Linked DNA regions of Homo sapiens: region 1 is linked to region 2. The links come from fine-mapping of genetic effects on gene expression. A gene starts in region 2. The other region holds a variant in brackets. All regions are shown on one strand. Distances are between the middles of the regions. Region 1 has its middle 160 kb from the start of PDE8A. Region 2 holds the start of PDE8A (phosphodiesterase 8A).

Evidence for each region.
Region 1: its variant is fine-mapped to the expression of PDE8A in whole blood (TOPMed, PIP 0.99).

Annotation. Positions count from the first base shown.
Region 1 is chr15:85,143,093-85,146,104 of GRCh38, forward strand. No RefSeq gene overlaps it. Among named protein-coding and RNA genes, the nearest start is that of PDE8A, 160 kb to the left of the region's middle. The variant AT/A (reference allele first, on the strand shown) is at 1,502.
Region 2 is chr15:84,980,494-84,982,993 of GRCh38, forward strand. It overlaps PDE8A (phosphodiesterase 8A), which reads left to right and starts at 1,363. Exons shown (of 22, transcript NM_002605.3): 1 at 1,363-1,855. The coding sequence starts at 1,670. RefSeq lists silencers at 425-474, 795-1,284 and an enhancer at 1,012-1,544.

The DNA of each region.
Region 1 (3,012 bases), 160 kb after region 2:
CATAGTGGCGGGCGCCTGTGATCCCACTTACTTGGGAGACCGAGGTGGGAGAATCGCTTGAACCCGGGAGGCAGAGGTTGCAGTGAGCTGAGATCGTACCACTGCACTCCAGCCTGGTGACAGAGCAAGACTCCATCTCAAAAAAAAAAAAAAAAAAAAAAAAGGTAGACACAGAAAAATGTTAATATTTATTAAGTCTAGTGGTGAAGTACATTGATTTTTTAAAGGCAGCTAGGGCCAAGGCAGCTAGGATATTTTTTCTTCTTTTGAGACAGGTCTCTGTTGCCCAGGCTGGAGTGCAGTGGCGCAATCAGGCTCACTGCAGCCTCTACCTCCCAGGCTCAAACAGTTCTCCCACCTCAGCCTCCTTGAGTAGCTGGGACTATAGGCACATATTTTAAGCAGAGAAAGTAGTACACAAAACAGAAGCCATATGAAAACACAATTAAAAAATCAACAATAAAAATCAAAATATTTTATGTGACAAATGACAATATGTCAAAAGCAAGGAAATGTTTATAATTCATTTTATAAAAGCTTACTTCCATAATACTGATTTTTAAAATTTTTATATGAGAAAATGAACAGTACGGTAGAAAAAATTTAAAAATGTTATGAACAGAAAGTTTGTAGAAAAACAAAAGGTTCTTAAAGTTTATACTACACTGATAGTAATCAAATGCAAATTAGAACCAATTTGAGATATTTTTCACCTTTAAGATGAGTAAAGAATAAAAAGTTTGATAATATAGTATGTTAATAAGAATGTGTGGGCCGGTTGCAGTGGCTCACGCCTGTAATCCCAGCACTTTAGGAGGCCAAGGCAGGCAGATCATAAGGTCAGGAGTTTGAGACCAGCCTGTCCAACATAGTGAAACCCTGTCTCTACTAAAAATATAAAAATTAGCCAGGCGTGGTGGCGGGCACCTATAATCACAGCTACTCCAGAGACTGAGGCAGAAGAATTGCTTAAACCCAGGGGGCAGAGGTTGCAGTGAGCCGAGATGGCGCCACTGCACTCCAGCCTGGGTGACAGAGCAAGACTCTCTCGGGGAGGGGGCGGGGGTGGGTGGTAAAAAAAAGAAGAATGAGTGGAAATGACATGGCAGGTGAGTATAATTAGTACAACCTAATTACAAATTTGCCAAATCTATCCAAATTGCAAATGTACATGCAGTGTGACCTGGCAATTCTACTTCCAGGATTTTAGCCTAAAGATATTTACACGTGGGAAATAATAGTCTACAAAATTATTTATTATTTACTACTTATATTAGTAAAAGACTGGAAACAAATTGTCTATCATTTAAGAAGAGTAAGTAAACAAGTTACAGGTATGACCATACAACAGAATACTATGCAACTGTAAAAAAGAATGAGGAGACTTATTTTCCAGATCCGCATGTAAGGAACTTGAAAGTCGCCACTTCATTCTAACAAGTAAAAAGCTAAACAGCCTGAAAAATCAACAGCTCTTCCTAGATCTGTAAGAAAGGTGAGG[AT/A]ACAAGTCAAACTGCTGCCCCTAAGATAGGAGAGACCAGCAGGCAAATACAGGAAATTATATCTTACTGGAGCAGAGATTCATGAGTGGAAACCACCATGGGAACCAGTGCCAGGGTAGAAGAACCTGTCAGTAATTGAAGAATTGGTGGAGGCTCAATGTGGACAGTCTAAGAATTAAAACTCCTGGGGAACCCAGTTATAAGGGGTGCCCCCCGCCTGCACTTTCGTGAATTTTACCTCCAAGAGCTTCACAGTTCTCACAGTAAATATAACAGGAAAATTCCCTCATACTTCCAGCAAAGAGAGGAGGAAAGCACTGTTTTGTTTATAGCAAAAACACTGCGAATGAATGAAAAGTGCTTTTGATGGGCTCATTAATAGGCTGGACATGAATTAGGAGTGAATCTCTCAGCTTGAAGACATGTCAAATAGAAACCTACAAAACTGAAAATTAAAGAGAATAGGACTGAGCAAAATATCCAAGGACTATGGAGCTAAAAAGTTGTAATATACATGTTATAAGAATAGCAGAGGGAAAATACAGAAAGAAAAGAACAGAAGAAATATTTGAGGCCAAATGTGGTGGCTCATGCCTGTAGTCCCAGGGCTTTGGGAGGCCAAGGTGGGAGGATCACTTGAGGCCAGGAGTTTGAGACCAGCCTGGGCAACATAGTGAGAGCCACACCCATTTTTAAAAAAAAGCCAGGCCGGGCACGGTGGCTCAGGTCTGTAATCCTATCACTTTGGGAGGTAGAGGCAGGTGGATCACCTGAGGTCAGGAGTTCGAGACCAGCCTGACCAACATGGAAAAACTCTGTCTCTACTAAAAGTACAAAATTAGCAGGGTGTGGTGACACATGCCTGTAATCCCAGCTACTCGAGAGGCTGAGGCAGGAGAATCGCTTGAACCCAGGAGGCAGAGGTTGTTGAACCAAGATTATGCCATTGCACTCCAGCCTGGGCAACAAGAGCGAAACTCTGTCTCAAAAAAAAAAAAAAAAAAAAAAAAACCCAAAAAATGAAAAACACATAGATTAAATGGATGGAGAAAATATACCACACTAACACTAATCAAAAGAAAGCAAGACCATCCTAGACAACATGGTGAAACCCTGTCTCTACTAAAAATACAAAAATTAGCTGGGCGTGGTGTTGCACACCTGTAGTCCCAGCTACTCAGGGGGACTAAGGCAGGAGAATCGCTTGAACCTGGGAGGCAGAGGTTGCAGTGAGCCAAGAACGCGCCACAGCACTCTAGCCTCATGACAGAGCGAGACTCTGTCTCAAAAAAAAAAAAAGAAAGGAGTAGTTACATTAATTGCAAACAGAGGAGACTTAAAAGCAAGGAAAGTTATCAAGGATAAAGAAGGTCATTAGATTATGATAAAGAGATCATTTCTCCAAGACATAATAATCCCTAACATGTATACACCAAACAACATAATATCAAACTACATGAGCCCCAAACTGATAGAACTGTAAGGAGAAAAGATTAATCCACTATTACAC
Region 2 (2,500 bases):
CTAGGAAAGGTGTGGACGGTCGGAGAGGACAGGAAGGAGCCGGCTGCACCGCGCCAGGGTCTCCGCAAACCGGGAGCCCAGGGAGGGCGGGAAGACTGGCGGGGGTCCGAGGCAGCCCGCTACAGGATACGTGATGGACGCCCAGAGACACCGCCCTCCAGCTGGTGGGGGAGGAGCCCCAGCCACCAAGAAGTTAAGTGACTGGCCCAGTTCACACAGCAAGCTAGTGGCTGTGTGCGTGTCCGGGGTCCTCATGGGCCCCAGGCCTGCAATGCGTACGCCCCTTCCCCTGGCTCTGCCTTTGGGGTCTCGGACGCCCGACTAGCACTTTGGTTAAAATGAGAGGAGGACGGGCGCCTGCAGCCTGCCCGGTGCTGTAGCTTTGCGGCCGCCCCGGCGCCTGTGTAATCCGAGGCGTGGCGCGCCAGGTTTTGGCCTGCGAGGGAGCGCACGTGGGCTGCGGCTTCTCGCGGACGCCCAGGCCCCACCCACCCGGGACCCGGCGCGCGGCGCCCCAGTTTGACTTTCACTACCCCCAAAGGAGGTCTTTCCACCGGCCTCTTTTCTGGGTAACAGCTCCAGGGCTCACACTTGGTGACCCCACCGAGGTCAAGTAGCCGCTAAGTTACGGAGCCGGAATTCGAATTTGGCGGTCGGGCTTCTGGTGGCCTCGGGACGGAGGTGGCTGTGTGTCCCTGGGCAAGTCTCTTTCCTTCTCTGGGTAGCCCAGTCGGGCGCCCCGCCTGTCGTCGCCGCGCATGCTCAGTTGCGGGCGGCGTCCGGAGGAGGTGGCGGGCGCCCCAGCTGCTTTGCATTGACGCCAGCACCCGCTGGAGGTCACCGCTGGGGGCTCGGCGCGGCACGCTGCCGGCAAAACCCGGCCCGGATCACGGAGCCGGAGCCGGAGCCGTACCGCCAGCAACTCCTGGGTGCGCGCAGCCGTTTCTGCGCTTCTCGACGGTGCGGCCCCAGGCCCCGCTGGAGCCGAGCTGCTCCCCTCCCTACCCTGGCGGACGTGGCCCGGCCGCTCCGAGGGGTTTCCCTCGGACCCCGCGCCTAAACCCCGGCCAGCGGGAGCGTCTAAGGCTAGCCTTGTACCCCACCGGCACTCGGCCTGGGGGGGCTTTTCCGCGAGGCGGCGGCCCAGCGGGCGGAGCGGCGTGGGTGTCCACATCTAGGCGGAGTCTGGAGCCGGGGAGGCGGCGGCGGCGGCGGCGGGAGCGGGGCCGGGCGCGGCCGGGAGCTCGCCTCCCCCGGGGGTCGTGCCGCAGCTCGGCGAGGGCAGCGTGGCTCGCGCGGCGTGGACTCAGCCGCTCCTGGGTAAGGAGAGCGCAAATCTCCTCCCCCTATTTCCCCGGAAGCGCGGCCGAGGCGAGCCCGGCGATGTGAGAGGCGGCCGTCGGCTCCTGCCTCAGGAAGGGCATGTTCGGAGGGGCGGCCTCGGCACGCCACCCGCCTAAGCGCCCCCTTCCCACCGCAGCCGCCGCCGCCGCAGCGCCCGCACCGCGATAAAAGGGGCGGCCGCGTTTCCTGACGCGAGATCCGCGCTCGCCGCCGCCCGCCCAGGCGGCGATGACACGGCGCCCGCGGCGGCCCGGAGGCGCCGGGTGGGCCGTTTGCTGACCGGATCGCGGCTACCCGCCAGCGTGTCCGCGGCGCCGCCGCCAGCATGGGCTGTGCCCCGAGCATCCACATTTCCGAGCGCCTGGTGGCCGAGGACGCGCCTAGCCCCGCGGCACCGCCGCTGTCGTCCGGCGGGCCGCGCCTCCCGCAGGGCCAGAAGACGGCCGCCTTGCCCCGGACCCGCGGCGCCGGCCTCTTGGAGTCGGAGCTTCGCGACGGCAGCGGCAAGAAGGTAAGGGGCGCCGGGCACTCTGGGGCCGCCGCGAAACTCGGGCCCGGCCAGTAAGCAACTTTCCCGCAGGGGCCGGGCGGGGTCCCCCCCACCCGGCCTCGGTGCCCTCTTGTCCCGCTTTGGATGGTTCTGATTGACGCCAGTCTCCCGCCTTGCCGGGGCAGCGTTCAGAGAAGGACCGACCCAGGTCCCGCGACCCTGATTTCCTAGGGTTGCGATTAGGACGCCGCCTGTGTCGCGGCGTCGGTTTTTTGGACACATCCGACTCCCGGAGCGGCGGGGCCCGATGTGAAGTTGACTGAGGCGCTTGCATCAATTTCCTCTCCAAGAGCGGGTGTTTGAGGGAAACCCCCAGGATATTCTGGCGCGCCCCTGCAATGTTAAATCAGTGTGAACTTTGTTCTTTTCCTGTGGTAGAAAGGGAAGGGCGACTGGCCTCACCACTCTTTTCCCTCTGTCAGCTTTGCACATGCAGTTGCAGGTTACCATTTTCTTCGGGACTGCTAGAATGTAATCTGGAACATCAGCTTTGCTTCATTGCACATGTATTTGAGGTCCACGTTTATTAGCATACATACTGTATTTAAAGCATATGTAATTAGAAAATACTGTGAAACGCGATTTTTGAAGCATTCAGCAGAACAA